Linked DNA regions of Homo sapiens: region 1 is linked to region 2. Evidence: fine-mapped expression QTL. Tissue or cell type: esophagus muscle. Region 2 holds a variant in brackets; the other region holds the start of a gene. All regions are shown on one strand. Distances are from middle to middle.

Region 1 (8,086 bases), 76 kb before region 2:
ATTCCAGTTCAGGATCGCGGATGGCCAGAATCTTTCCTGGTGCCAGGTGGGTGCCAACTCTGGACAAGATGCCATCCCTTTGCAGGGTATACACTCACACACACACCCATGCTCACTCAGGCTAGGACAATGTAGACATGCCAATCAACCTAACTGGCACATCTTTGGAATCGGGAAGGAAATTGGAGTACCTGGAGGAAACCCACACAGACATGGGGAGAAGGGGCAAACTCCACACACAAAGTGGCCTCGGGGCCAGGCACGGTGGCTCACACCTGTAATCCCAGCACTTTGGGAGGCTGAGGCAGGCGGATCACGAGGTCAGGAGTTCAAGACCAGCCTGGGCAACATGCTGAAACTCCGTGTCTACTAAAAATACAAAAATTAGCTGGGCGTGGTGGTGCGTGCCTATAATCCCAGCTACTCAGGAGGCTGAGGCAGGAGAATTGCTTGAACCGAAACCTGGGAGGCGGAGCTTGCAGTGAGCCAAGATCGCATCACTGCACTCCAGAGCCTGGGCTACAGAGGGAGATTCCGTCTCAAAAAAAAGCCTTGAGCAGGAATGGATTTTTTTTTTCTCATCAATGTTATAACAAAACCACATTGAACAAAATGATCTTATTAGAGAACCTGCTATACTTAATATTGTTAAGGTGTCAATTGATTCCCCAGATGTATCTAAAAATACAATTCAATCCCTATAAAAATTCCAACTGCTTGTACTTATTTATTTGCAGAAACGGGACAAGCCAATTCTAAATATTCACATGGAATAGCAAGGGACCTTAAGTAGCTAAAACAATTTTGAAAAAGAACGATACTGGAGGCCTCATACTTCCCAGTCTTTTTATTTATTTATTTATTTATTTATTTATTTATTTATTTATTTATTTATTTATTTTTGGAGATGAGGTCTCACTCTGTCGCCTCGCCTCTCGGGTTCAAGCCATTCTCCTGTCTCAGCCTCCCAAGTAGCTGGAACTACGGGCATGCACCACTAAGCCTGGCTAATTTTTGTATTTTTAGTAGAGACCGGGTTTCACCATGTTGGCTAGGCTGGTCTTGAACTCCTGACCTCAGGTGATCTGCCCACCTCAGCTTCCCAAAGTGCTGGGATTACAGGCCTGAGCCATTGCGCCTGGCCATGTTTATGGTTTTATCAGCTTTAGAAGTTTGTAATTTGTACTTATTTATTCATTCCAAATAAGTATTAATTTTCATTTCTAATTTTATATTTACAAAGTCTATTGCAGTGCTTCTGTTTAACATTCTATAGGTTGTGTAAGTTTTGGGCTCAACAATTCCTGAATGCACCTTGAATCAATGAGTCTCAGGACATAACATTGAGTGTAAAAAGCAATTTGCAGAAAAATACATCCTCCATAATTCCATATACAGAGTTAAAAAGCATGTAAAATTTATATGTTGTTCACAGACAAAAAATGTGGGAAGATGATAAGGCCTACAGAGGGCTTCAGGGACAGGAGGAAATTATGACTTTTGTGGGCTCTGGGCACAAGTTACCTTCATGGCACTTTTCTCCATTAAAAAAAATGATAAAAATTATATTTTATGGCCGGGTGCGGTGGCTCAAGCCTGTAATCCCAGCACTTTGGGAGGCAGAGGCGGGCGGATCACGAGGTCAGGAGATCGAGACCATCCTGGCTAACACGGTGAAACCCTGTCTCTACTAAAAATACAAAAAATTAGCCAGGCGTGGTGGCACGTGGCTGTAGTCCCAGCTACTCGGGAGGCTGAGACAGGAGAATGGCGTGAACCCGGGAGGCGGAGCTTGCAGTGAGCCGAGATGGCGCCCCTGCACTCCAGCCTGGGCGACAGAGCGAGACTCGTCTCAAAAAAAAAAAAAAATTATATTTTATGACTGTGGTGGTATAAAGGCTGTGTTGGTATATTAGTGTTATATGATAAAACAAAATATGTTCAAAATATTTGACAGGATGAAGAAGTAGAAAAGAGGAAAATAACGGTCAACGCGTGCTGCTCCTTAGACGGTTAAATTTGCATAACGGCCACCACGCCCTTCCAACAAGCCACGCCCCCTTGCTAGAATCTTCCTTCGCCTTGGGCCTTTCCCGCAGTGTTCCCCTGGGCTTGCTCCTCATCCTCGGGCCAGGGTTCTCCTCGGTAAGGCTGTATCTGACCCACTTTTCCCAAGCTGGCCCATCTCAGCCTCTTTTTTTATCGCCTGAGTCACCACTACTAATTGTTTAATTTCCCTGTCTCCTCTATTAACTGTAAGACGGTGACGCTGCATCATCGTGGTCAGTAGTAGGCGTTACTAAAAGGGGGTAGGGGCCGGGTGCGGTGGATCACGCTTGTAATCCCAGCACTTTGGGAGGTCGAGGCGGGGCGGATCACTTGAGGTTGGAGTTTGAGACCATCCTGGCCAACATGGTGAAACCCCATCTCTACTAAAAACATGAACATTAGCCGGGCGTGTGGCACACGCCTGTACTCCCAGCTACTCGGGAGGCTGATGCAGGAGAATCATTTGAACCCAGGAGGCGGAGGTTGCAGTGAGCCGAGACTGCGCCACTGCACTTCAGCTTGGGTGACAGAGCGCGACTCCATCTCAAAAACAAAAAAGGGGGGGGATAGGCTTTCCAGTGGATTTTACTCATTTTTATTTATTTATAGACTTTTCTGAGACAGGGTCTTGCTTTGTTCCCCAGCCTGGAGTGTAGTGGCACAGTCACGGCTCACTGCAGTCTCGATCTCCCGGTCTCAATGGATATCCACCCCCTGCCTCAGCCTCCCAACAAGCTGGGCCCACAGGTGCTAATTTTTTTTTTTTTTTTTTTTTTTCCGGAGAGAGAGTCTCGCTCCTTTGCCCAGGCTGGAGTGCAGTGGTGCGATCTCGGCTCACTGCAACCTCTGCCTCCCGGGTTCAAGCCATTCTCATGCCTCAGCCTCCTGAGTAGCTGGGATTACAGGCACCCGCCACCACGCCCAGGTAATCTTTTTATTTTTAGTAGAGACGGAGTTTCACCATGTTGGTCAGGCTGGTCTCGAACTCCTGACCTCAGGTGATCCACCCGCCTCGGCCTCCCAAAGTGCTGGGATTACAGGCGTGAGCCACCGCGCCCGGCCTCGGTGGCTGAGTTTTAATTTTTTTTTGTACATACGGGTGTCTCGCTATGTTGCACAGGCTGGTCTCTGAACTCCGGGCTCAAGCGAGCCTCCCGCCTGGGCCTCCCAAAGTGGTGGGATTAGAAGCGGGAGCCACCGCACCAGCGAGGGATTTACTCTGCTGTGTTGCGCATCGCGCGCATTGTTCGCAAGACCTAAGGTCTCCCTTTCTTGTAATATAAAGGATATACACATATTCCTCCGAAATTACACGTTTATGTAATTTACATTTCAGGTCTTTAAAGGAAATCTAAAGAGAAAAATTACTTCGTCACCGTAGTACATCCGCTGAGACACCTGAGGCGTGGAAAAAAGAAGAAAAAAGAGGGAACGGAAATGGCCAGCGGGTAAGGGCTGACCCCACCCGCAGCAGAGCTCATCCCGGAGCCGCCCCACCCGCAGGAAGCCCCGGGCGGGGCCGAGGTCAAGGTTCCGCGGCAAACTCTCCCCGTCCACCCTGACGGGGACTCGGGATTGGTCGGGCCCCAGCTGCCCGGACGTGACGCCAGCGCCCGGCGTGGGCGGTGCACCGCGGCCGCTCTTCCCATGCCCCGCCCCCTGGGGGGCACCAAAACCAGAAAGCAGCGGCCGGGGCGGGGCCTGCGGCCGGCCGACTCAGCGCGGGGGCGGGGCCTACCTCGCGGCAACAGCTGGTTGGTAGCTGCGGCTGCGGGCCCGCACTTCCGCTGGTGGCCTAGAGCGGGGCCCGGTATGGAGGTGGGCTAGAGGCCGACGCCAGCCAGAGAGCGGTGAGGGTAGCGGCGGGCTGGAGGCCGTAGGTCGGGCGGGCGTGAGCGCAGGCGCGGCTTGTGCTTGCAGGGCCGCTTCGGGGAACCATCGCGGCGCCTAGGTCCCGGTGGGCGGATGGGGGAAGAGTCGGCGCGGGCTCGGCCGCTTCCCTCGGTGCGGGGGCGGGAGCACCCCTCGACGGCTGGCGGCCGCCTGTTGCCTTCCTGCGCGCTGGACCCGGCCGCTGCGACCCCCTGTCCTTCCGTTGTCTACACTGCGGTCTCGTGTGAGCTGTTTTTGGTGTGGATACTGCGTAGTTTCCTTGGGGCTGAGCGGGAGGTCTCGGGGTGGAAAGTGTCGGTTCCCTCCACACGCTCGTCTGCCTCTCGCCTGGAGTCCCTCCCTTTGTTTTTTTTTCTTTTTTCTTTTTTTTTTTTTTTTGAGACGGGGTCTCGCTCTGTCACCCAGGCTGAAGTGCAGTGGAACAGTCACGGCTCGCAGCAACCTCGTCTTCCTGGGCTCCAGCGATCCTTCCGCCTCATCCCCCCGAGTAACTGGGACCATAGGCGCGCGTCACCACGCCCGGCTAATTAAAAACAAAATGTGTTGCAGAGACAGGGCCTGGCTGTGTTTCCCAGGCTGAGCTCAGCTGCTCCAGGGATCCTCCGAGCCGCCGCGCCCGGCCGGTCCCTTCGTTTGGAGGAGAGTCTGTTTCTCCCACTTGGAGGGGCTGGAGCTTTTGCTGCTGGCCACAGGACTTTGTCCGTCCTCCCCAACTTCTGGGGATCTAAGGATGTGCCCAGCAATTTGCACGACCCAAGTGAAACGGGGGTGACTGCCTTGAGGGAAAAGAGCTCCACAAGGAGAAGGCCGAGTGTGGTATTTGATAAGTGACACAGCTGAGGATCCTAGGATTGATGTTACCTGCGCGGGCTAATAACTTGGGGGATTTTTGGCTCGGTGCCTAGCTGTCCCCGTGAGTGGGGACAGCCCCTTGTGGAACTGGGAGTCAGAATTGCAGTTCTGCTGTTTCCTGGAAGTCCACAGCCAAGTTGTCTAACCTATCTGGGCTTCCTCATCAGCCAGCAGTATCTGTCTGTAATAGGATCGATACCAGGCTCAGATGGGATATAGAGTATAAATGCCACTTACCAATTTCGTTTTTTGTTTTTTAATTTCAGAAATGTTCTTTTGGGGCCAGAGTCTGGGCATATATGAATGCAAATCCGTGTTTGTTCACAACTAAGCCCAGCTGAGACGATCACTTTTCTGTAGGCCATTTGTCCAGGTAATAATTTTTTTTTTTAGCAGGAGTTCAGAGCACCAAGGTAAGTGCAATGATGGAAACATGTGCAGAGTCCTAAAGGGACAGAGAAGAAGGTCATCAGAGATAGACTGGAAGAGAGGACGGGTCGGACAGGCCCCCCCCCCAGACGTGATGACACTCAGGAAGAGCTTGCACACTGGTTGTTCTCAAATCCAGCTTTCTCTTCGAATCTTAGTGGAGTTCTTTAAAAGGGAAACAATTTTATCCATAGGATCTTTTCTACTTTTTTTTTTAAGTTCCTGAGGTAAGTCTGATGTGTATTCACAGTTAAGTACCGGGCAGAGGTAGGAGGGTGGGTTTCCAAGGCCAGTGGAAGAGCTTCCATAAAGGCAGGGAATACCAGTCACCATGAATGGTTTTAGGAAGAGCAAGTCAAGGGAGGTAAGTGTGGAGGAAAGAGATGATGTGGAAGCTGGATCATCGCGGGCCTTGTGTGTGTTGAGCTCAGCAATTTGAATTTTATCCCAACATTGGAGGAGGAGTCATTTGTGCTTTCGAAGTCCAGTTTGGGGCTTTGGCCTCTGGCAGCATTTTGGAGGAGGAATTGATGGCGATCAAAGAAGAAATAGATCATTTAGGCTTCTTCAGTAATCCAGGCAAATGATGAAAATGTACTGAACTAAGGCAGTGGCGGTTGCACTGAGAAGAAAGTAGAGATGTAATTAAGGGGTAGGCTCTGGAGCTCAGAGATTGCGGCTGAGGGAGAAGGAGCGTATAGGATAATTCCTAGGTTACTGGTTTGAAAATTGAATGTATGGTAATGTCATCAACAAGGGAATATAGAACAAATAACAGATTTAAGGGAAGGACTTCGTTGGGTTCTGGTCATGTTTACTTTGAGGTGCCTGTCAGATATGTGAGTAGAGATACACTGTATGCAGTTGGATATTGAATATATCTGGAGTTCTAGGCTAGGCTGTCAGTTATTGAGTAGGTGGAACAGTGCATCATTTCACTCAACCTCCCCAGTAGCTGCGACTACAGGTGCATACCACCATGCCCAGCTAATTTTTATATTTTTAGTAGATACGGGGTTTCACCATGTTGGCCAGGATGGTCTTGATCTCTTGACCTCGTGATCCCTCACGCCTCGGCCTCCCAGAGTGCTGGAATTACAGGTGTGAGCCACTGCGCCCTGCCTGCATTAAGTTTTACAATACATTCTCAGTCTGGGCAGCTTCAATCTAGGCAGTAGTTGAAGCAGTGGTTTGAAGTAGGCCGCCCAGAAAGAGTACTGAATGAAGAGGTGAGAATTCTCAGGACAAGCCTTCGAAAACTTTAGCATTTATATGAGTAACAAAGGCAGGGGTAATTATGAAGGTGATTGGGTAGAAGTGGTGTCCAAAAAATGGTGTGTTGTAGGTAAGGAAAGGATGGGCAGCATTTTCATATGCTTTAGCAGAGTCAGGTCAGGAACCTATTGGATTGGTAATGTAAAGATTGTTAGGGACTTCACATTCAGTGGAGTGTAAGGGTAGAAGCCAGAGTGCAAAGGAGCTGAAGAGCTGGGAGGTAGTGAATCTAAACTTCCAGATGTTTAGCTGAGAAGTGTAGAAGAAAGAGATTGTTATTTGAAGTTTCTGGCTAGTTAATGTTGAGAAATGGATAGCCTAAGGATAAGTCTGTAGAAAATTACAGTAATACCTATGGTGAAGCATCCTATATTTTTGGTTTTGACACATTAGCTCTCTTTTTGGTGGGTGCTCAGAGAGTTGCTTTAATTTTGGTTTTGCAACTTGAGTATTGTCTGGACACACCCATTTGTCATTCACTAATGATTGCAAGCCGTTACAGTCTGATGAAACTAACAAAATAGACCTCAAGAAGAACTGAGTTGTATAAAAGCTTAAGAGGATTCACAGTAGTTTAGAAGCAATAATTTTCTCCTTAAAGACAAAATATGCCCTATTGAGGTTTCCTGGGCTTAGCCATTAGGCCAGTGATGATTTTAAATTTGAAGACAAAACCACACACACAGCCTTTTGAAGAAGAACCATGGAAGCACATGTTCTCTTGTTGGTGTGCTCTGCAGCAGTATTCTCCGTTATCTTCTAGCGGCCATGACACTCACCTATTTTGGTAGTAACTCCTATATATTTTGAGAAAATTTAGTCTTGCTTTTTTGGTTGTGGAAATAGGCTAGTTTTCTAAGTGAAATAAAAAGCAAATTCTGTAATTTTCTTAATAGAAGGTTTCTTTTGTTGTCTCCTTTGTTAGTACTTATTTTAAAGTACACAACATTTGGAGCTTCAAGTAAGGTAAGTGGGAAAAGAAGTATGCAACATTTTATTTGCATGGTAGTCTCACTTAAGTTTTTTAAAGCTTAAATTGGCTGCAGTCTGTTAGCTGCTGAAATCATGCTTCAAATGTTTGAGAAACCTCCATGAAGTTTCACTTTCTGTTCTTACGTCTTCTAAGTTCACTTTCCATATTAAACTAGGTTACCGGAAAAAAAAACAGCTTCTGCAAGCTGTTAACTTACTAGTAGTGTGATGTTGGCCTCTTAGGTATAAGTAATTCTTCTTTTGAATAAAATAATTTTAAATTCTGCAGAAATACATTGAAGACCTTATCCCATGTTACTTGGCATTTCCTAGTCTGCAGTGCCCTTGTACTAGAAGGCATTAATAAAATGTAATTGAGTTAGAGTTTGTGTCAGGAAAGGGCGGTACTCTGCGGCTATCACTGCATACTCTTTTTCCCCCCCACGTCGATGAGAACTGTGTAACTCATGTTATCCTTTTTCTCTGCTTTCAGGAAGCTCCTCATGTAGAACTTAGTGAAATTAAATTTCTTCTAAAGAAGTTTTGATTTTGTTTTTTGAAATCTCATTTTTAAATGTCCTTTTGTGTGTATGTACTTTAATGTTGAAAGCTACCC
Region 2 (8,104 bases):
AGTTTGAGACCAACCTGGGCAACATGGTGAAACCTTGTCTCTACTAAAAAGACAAAAATGAGCCAGGAGTTGATGGTGTGTGCCTGTCATTCCAGTTATTCGGGAGGCTGAGGTGGGAGGATTGCTTGAGCCCGGGAGGCGGTGAACAACGATCATGTCATTGCCCTCCAGCCTGGGTGACAGAGTGAGACTCTCTCTCTCAAAAAAAAAAAAAATAAGTTAAAAAATAAATAAAAAATTTAAAATAAAGTTTTAAAAGGACTTTAAAGGAGAAAAATTTTTCAGGCTCATGCCCAGCAGGAACAAAAAGCACGCATCTAGGATGTGCATGGCCTTCTGAACTTACGGCTGGTTCCCAAGTGGTAGTGGCCCCGTTGGTGGCTGACTTCAAAAATACAAGTTTGATTTTTTTTTTAGACATGTTTGGAGAGTTTACTTTTTATTTATTTATTGTTTTTTTTGAGACGGAGTCTTGCTTTTTTTTTTTTTTTTTTTAGAGACGGAGTCTGCACTCACCCAGACCGGAGTGCAGTGATGTGATCTCGGCTCACTGCAACCTCTGCCTCCTGGGTTCAAGCAGTTCTCCTGCCTCAGCCTCCCAAGTAGCTGGGATTACAGGCACTTGCCACCACGCCCAGCTAATTTTTTTGGTTGCGCCATGTTGGCCAGGCTGGTCTTGAACTCCGGACCTCAGGTGATCCACCCACCTCGGCCTCCCAAAGTGCTGGCATTACGTGTGTTAGCCACTGCACACAGCCTGGAGGGTTTATTTTGTTGGTTTTGTTTTGTTTTTTTGTTTTCAGGGAAAATTTGTATTTTTGATATTTGGTGCAGGAGAAGTGTGATACTTTTCTGAATGGTTAGAACTTTAATCAGATAAACTATATGGATAAATAGCAAAGATTGTTAAGACTGCCTCTCTCTTCTGTATCTTACCAAGGCTGGACAGTCTTGTGAAATTGAGACTCTTACTCCACTCATCCATCGCTGCAATAAGCTCATCCTAGTAGGAGATCCTAAGCAGCTCCCTCCGACAGTCATCTCTATGGTAAGTTTTTTATGTTCAGATTGCTTTAAAATGGAAGGGGCTTTTTAAAATTTTTGTTTTCAGGAGGGAGAGACATCTTTCTTGGATTGGCCTCTTAATTTGGAGGGAAAAGTAAGCAGTAACTAAGAAAAGAGAAGCACTTAATAAATTTTAAAAAATGCCTAAAAATGTCCATTTGGTCATAGTTGTTCTTCTGTGTATGTGTGGCAGAAGCAGTGTGGCAGGGACTTGGAAGCCTAGATGGATGACGTGCCATGGAAACCAAGCTTTGGGAAAGGCAGTGTGCATGTCTGCCTTTTTTAAGTCTCTTAAGAGCTGAATCTGATTTATTTTAATCATACAAACACCAAAACAATAATAAAAGAAAAACTTCAGAAATAAAGAGAAGAATCCTACCCTCCTCATTTTTGTTTAAATATGTACAAATTGAGGAAAACATGAAGTTAAATTAATTTTGGAGTACATTTCCATTTTTAGAATTTGGTATTCTAGTGTTAATACAAGAACATGTCTGTGCCCTTCACATCATCTGAAAGTGAAGGTACAGGGGAAAAAAAGACTCAATTACAAGCTCTGACTTTGGGAAGAGAAGAACCAGACTGTAGTCTACTCTTCTCTGTTGGTTTTTTTTAATCTCATGAAAGATTCTCCTGGAAATGCACATTAGAATCAGGATCCAGTAGATGTTTTGAAGTAATCTGAAGAGGTTTTGAAATTTAATGAAATGTGTATTTTTTACTAATAACATAGATTATTTATACAGATAATTGAGCAGTGGCTTCATAAATAATCCTAGAGAACAGATCATTTTCAAAGCATTTTTGTTGAAGCTTGGAATGAATGCAGGTGGTTATCGTTAGTGGTTTTTGATTTCGGAATTATTCAGAATGATAGTGCAGTTCTTTGTATGACATTTGAGCGCAGGTACATGATCATGTTAGAGTGTGGCCCAGAAGCACACCCGTCACCCAGTGAAAACCCGTGTGTGTAGGGAAGAACTGCTGCAGGTAACTTTGTTCACGGAGAATAATGAAGAGCAAATTCTGTATCCCATTTCTTTAAATGATGCAGGATTTCATTGAAGGGCCTTGGCATATAGTGAAAAGAGAGATTGTTAATGGGCCTCAACTTTACTGCCTACTTCAATGATTGATAAAAACAACAAAAATTAGAAAAAAAAAATCCATTTGTGCTGTTTAAATTGTTGTACAAATAAAACAGGCTATTTTGAGAAAATAATTACAAAGTTCATTTCCATAAGGTGCCTTTTTTGACCACCTGTTTCTAGTGGTAATTACAGTGAAAGTGAGTATTTTTAACAGATATTGCTAGGCATTTGTGTGTTTATTCGTCTTTTTCAGTATGTATATATTGAGTGCCACCATAATTCAGGCACTGTTTAGGGGCTGGGGTTATGACAGTGAAGAAAACAGACAAAATCCCTGCCCTTATGGTGTTTGTATTCTAGGGGTTAACAGTGAGTCAGTTACTAAAAAGTGGTATATGGTTTGTATACATGTATATGTTTATGTGTATATGTACGTGGGTTTGGTTTTGTTTAAAGGTGGCAAAATCATTCTGTGCAGAATTGGTTTTTTTTTCAATCAGTAAATCAGGGACATCCTCCCATGTCAGAATATATATTAATAAATCTATGTCATTTGTAGAATGGACTAAGGTTTTGTCTGGAGGTAGATGCGTTACCTTACATAACTTCCTTTTCTGTTTCCCCAAAGAAAAGATTAAAAATTAGGTTTTGTGAGCTAACGCAGATAAACTTTTGAGGATTTAGGGAAAATTGGCATGTATCTATTAATAATTATTTTATGCTTTCACAAACCTGTTTAAAATCACACATATAAATAGGTTAAGAAGTAATGCCTTTCTTCCACTCCCATAGTTTGTGAAACAAGTTTATTCAGGCTTTGCACGTCTTCAGTGCCAGTATCTTTCACATCACTCATGAAGATTCCATCATCTTAGTGAAGTTTTCAGCACATTTTTACTTCAGGGTTATTTAAGATAAAGTACTTTTTGAAACTTTTCTTTTTTA[A/G]TTATACTTTAAGTTCTAGGGTACATGTTCACAACATGCAGGTTTGTTACATATGTATACATGTGCCATGTTGGTGTGCTGCACCCATTAACTCGTCATTTACATTAGGTGTATCTCCTAATGCTATCCCTCCCCCTCCCCTTTTTGAAACTTTCTGTGTTGCTGCCATCGGAAAGTAGATCCCAAGGCACAACTGTGGTAACATCAAGACAGTTTATCCCACTTGTCACTTAGGTCACTGTTTTTCAGATTGCAGAATATAACCCATTATTTGGTTTGTGAAATCCATTTAGCACAGCTTCGGCGTTCCTAATTCAAAAATTTGAAATGCTTCACCATCTGAAACTTCCCAAGTGCTGACTTTATGCTTAAAGTTCACGCTCGAAGGATATGCTCATTGGAGTATTTTGGATTTTTGGATTAGGGATGGTCAACACATAAGTCGAGTCTGTTTCCTTCACTGGAAATTAAGTCCTGTGAGACTTCATCTTATTCACTCTAGTGGTCTTAGCACTTCAAATTATAGATGCTTAGTACATATTAGATGGATGAATGAAGAATTTTGTCTTCAAAAGGCTTGTTTACAGTGGCATTCAATATGTCTGTCTGTGAGGGTGTACCCCCAGAAATAATTGTTAAAATCTGTGTTACATTTCCTTTATTACTGGTTTTTTTGGGTGGCGTCTTGTAGCATCAAAATAGCATCAGTTGTCTTTCACAAGATCATATCTCTTTCATTAGCAGTATATGAGTAGAAAAGACCTCCACATATATTCAAGATTCATGGCATTTTGGCCAGGTGTGGTGGCTCATTCCTGTTATCCCAGCTACTCAGGAGGCCAGAGACATGAGAATCGCTTGAACCTGGGAGGTGAAGGATGCAGTGAGCTGAGATCACGCCACTGCACTCCAGCCTGGGTGACAGAGCGAGACTGTGTCTCCAAAAAAAAAAAAAAAAAAAAAAAAAAAAAAAAAAGATTCATGGCATTTTGAGGCTCAGAGTCAGAAACACCTTTTTTCTCTGAAGCTGTGGTTGGTAATCTTATGCTACCTGAACGTTGCCATATACGTATTAGATCTCAGTAATTGTGTTTATAATAGTGGGAAAGATATAAATGAATTCTTGGAAACTGTTGCTTTATTTTGCCCCTCACAGAAAGCACAGGAGTATGGCTACGACCAGTCAATGATGGCTCGCTTCTGCAGACTGCTGGAAGAGAATGTAGAACACAACATGATCAGCAGGCTGCCCATTCTACAGCTCACTGTTCAGTACAGGATGCATCCAGACATATGCCTCTTCCCTTCTAATTATGTTTATAACAGAAACTTAAAAACAAATAGGTGAGTTCCCCTTATTGTTTGTGACCTTATTTTGTTGTAGTTTAGCTACTTATGAAGAATAGACATTTTACTGTCGTCTTAGGTCTTGTCATAAAAAGCATAAATCATGAAGGGTTAATAATTTTGTCCTGTTATAATAGCCATCATGTTGAATACAGCAAAGCACATAAAAAAGAAAAGGGGAAAAAGTCACCTATATTTATACTACCCAGAAATAATCACTGGTAACATTTTGGTATATCCACTTTCAGCAGTCCTTTTTTTTTTTTTTTTTTTTTTTGAAGACAGGGTCTCATTCTGTCACTCACACAGGATGAGTGCAGTGGCACACAGTCCTGGCTCACTGCAGCTTCGACCTCCCAGGCTCAATCAATCCACCTGCCTCAGCCTCCTGAGTAGCTGGGACTACACTCAGTCACCACCATGCCTGGCTAATTTTTGTATTTTTCTTTTTGTAGAAACGGGGTTTCGCTATGTTGCCCAGGCTGCTTTCGAACTCCTGAGCTCAAGCAATCCACCCGCCTTGGTCTCCCAAAGTGCTGGGATTACAGGCGAGAGTCACCGCACCTGGCCAAGTTTCAGTCCTTTTACTATGCATATCTTTTTTTACTTTTTAAATTTTTGAAGGAAAAATGTGGGACCATACTTAACATAGTATTCTGTGGCTTACTCTATTATGAGTGTCTTTCCAATCATACTTGTTATATTTTAATGATATAGACACCTCTCCCAGCACCAGGAAAGAAATAGAATTTGTTTTGTACCTTTCACTAATACACGTCTAGAAAAGAATATTCCTGCTATCCCCTTACTTGCCCCAGCCCACATCACCACACAGAAAAAATTGTAGTAATACCAAGATATTTTCTTAAATCTTGACTTTATTCTGAATGTTGACTGCTTTTTTTTTTTTACAGACAGACAGAAGCCATTCGATGTTCATCAGATTGGCCATTTCAGCCATACCTTGTGTTTGATGTTGGAGATGGTTCAGAAAGACGGGATAATGAGTATGTTTTCCTCTTGCCTCAGTCCTCTGATAGTCCCAGAATTGTTACATGATTTGCATTCATATTTCTGTTAAATACATTTCCTATACACATCTCTCTGCCTAGTGTCAGGGCACAGTCATGTTCACTTAAGTTGATGCTTCTTTTTTCTGTATAATGGGGATAATATTACCTAATGTCATAAGCAAGTGCTTGAGTAGATACTTGTTGAGCTCACAGCAGTGAGGGAAACAGACGTGCCCATTGCAAGATGGTGGTCTCATGGGAAGACAGGCCTTCAGCAGGTCATCACCTGGGTAAGCAGTTATTCCAGTTGGGTTAAGTACTGTGAAGGCTAAGTATAAATTCAGTTGAATGAAAATGTGAAAGGGAGGAAGGAAGTAGTGACAGAGGTTGGATGGTATTGGGTTGTGAATAAGGGCATGTGTTCAGGTGGTCTGTATATGACAGCAAAGAGGAGTGGTGTTGCTAGAAGCAGCAATGTCAGAGGAGCTGGGGATTCTTGTGAGAGAGTAGGGGAGGAATGGTCTAGGGGCAGCATTTGTTGGCACGGATACAAGTGCCACTCTGTCATGAAGTAGGAGGAAACACAAATCCCACTTCTACATCATGGGATGGCTGCAGAGCAGGTGGCGTCCTCAGGCGAGAATCAGGCGTTAGATAAGATACAGAGGTGGAAGTAGGGAACACTCATTGAAGAGGTTACACATACAGAGGAGTTGTTGGCCATGGGATTGTAGTGCTGGAGGGACTGCAGCCTAAAGGTTTTAATGAGGCCTCTTGGAGGAGAGCAGAGGATTGCGAGTTAAGCCGCAGAGCATCATGAGGATTTCAGGGATGGAAGAGATCGCTAGCTGATTGGGTTGTCCATTTAGTAAGTCTCAAAGTTAGGAGAATGGGTATTTAAGGCTCGTAAAGCAAGGCGGGTAAGGTAGCCTCAGGAATCAAGGGATGGGGCAGTGCATCCCCTGGTCTTGGTGCATTTTGGGTCCGGTATGGTCATGAGGGAGCATGTGTTTTCAGGAGGGGTTGAGAGTGCAGGATATGAGGCTGCTGAGGACTACAAAGAGGACATGAACCTGCTCCAGGGCCCCATGTTGTTCAACTGGGGTCAAGTGGGACACATCCTTCACATTGAGTCTGTGTGGATGGCAGCTGCTCGGTTGTGTGGTGTGTGTTGTATGCAGCCAGTGGTGAGGGACAAGGAAGATCATACATGTAAAGCATTTTCTCAGTGTTCGGAAGATAGTTAATCCTTAATTCATGTTAGCTATCTCTTATTCACATCTTTGTTCTTATTAATACTGCTGTTCTTAATACTGCTCTCCCTGTTTCAACAGATGAAGAAAGTGGTGCCTAAACTTCAGTTGATTTCAAACTCTTTTCTCTCTACAACTTCATTTTTCACTGGGCATTTCACATGTATTCATATTTACCATAGTATTTTCACATTTATTCATATATACCATATTAATGGTCATTGTAACAGCCTCTTGGAGTCACTGCTAGCTGAATAAAAGATGAAGCCTATCTGCCTGCCCTTTACTATAATGGGAAACAAACTCAGTGGAACTTAAGTTAGCAATTAGCCTGCTATTAGTTTTGATAACACTGTGTTTTCTTTTTCCATCTTGTTTAGCTCATATATAAATGTTCAAGAAATAAAACTGGTGATGGAAATAATTAAGCTTATTAAAGACAAAAGAAAGGATGTTAGTTTTCGAAACATTGGCATAATAACTCATTACAAGGCCCAGAAGACGATGATTCAGAAGGATTTGGACAAAGAGTTCGATAGAAAAGGGTGAGGCATTTTTATAAATATTTCCAATTTTCTTGTTGAATTAGAATGAGAGGATATAGAAGGAAAGAAGAAAAGGGAAACTCTTAAGGAGTGGTCTGTGCAAATTGGTGATACGGCACGAGGAAGCTGGGATGCTGCTGGCTTTCATAGACTTGTGCTGTGTGGCTCCTGGGTAGACAGGTTACTTCCTGGCAGTTGGAATGTCAACATTCTCCTTGGCAGTGGAATTGACTAAGAAACTTGCCAGGTCTTTACCTTTTAGTTCCATGACTTGTTCATCTGAATTCTTGTTCTAGCAAGACTAAAAGTAACATTTCACTTTAAATAAATGATTTAACCCTTGTATTGCCTTTATGTATAGAATGAAAATCATGTTTTTGTTTCCTTCTTACCTCAGCAGTAAAATTAAAGATTAAATATTGGAGATCCATAACCTTAAAATCATCTTAACTTAGAAGCACACAGACTACCAAAATCGAATCTAGAAAACAATAGAAAATCAGACCTGTAGGCTGGGTGTGGTGGCTCACACCTGTAATCCCAGCACTTTGGGAGGCTGAGGCGGGCAGATCACCTGAGGTCAGGAGGTTGAGACCAGCCTGGGCAACATGGTGAAACCCCATCTCTACTGAAAAAAAATACAAAAATTAGCCAGGCGTGGTGGCGCGCTCCCGTAGTCCCTGCTACTCGGAAGGCTGAGGTAGGTAAATCGCTTGAACCCAGGAGGCGGAGGCTGCAGTGAGCTGAGATTGCCCCACTGCATCACTCCAGCCTGGGTGACAGAGCGAGACTCCATCTCAAAAAAAAAAAAAAAAGAAAAAATCAGACCTTTATAACAAATAATG

Evidence for each region. PIP is the estimated chance that this variant, and not a neighbour inherited with it, causes the effect.
Region 1: SETX starts here. The variant in region 2 is fine-mapped to the expression of SETX in esophagus muscle (GTEx, PIP above 0.99). The same link has a PIP of 0.9 or more in gastroesophageal junction, sigmoid colon and tibial artery.

Annotation. Positions count from the first base shown.
Region 1 is chr9:132,350,730-132,358,815 of GRCh38, reverse strand. It overlaps SETX (senataxin), which reads left to right and starts at 3,830. Exons shown (of 26, transcript NM_015046.7): 1 at 3,830-3,899; 2 at 5,061-5,167. RefSeq lists silencers at 3,531-3,920, 3,971-4,180 and enhancers at 3,565-4,064, 3,046-4,245, 4,065-4,566, 7,574-7,623.
Region 2 is chr9:132,274,411-132,282,514 of GRCh38, reverse strand. It overlaps SETX (senataxin), which reads left to right. Exons shown (of 26, transcript NM_015046.7): 20 at 941-1,048; 21 at 4,258-4,445; 22 at 5,363-5,455; 23 at 7,095-7,259. Among named protein-coding and RNA genes, the nearest start is that of SETX, 77 kb to the left of the region's middle. The variant A/G (reference allele first, on the strand shown) is at 3,102.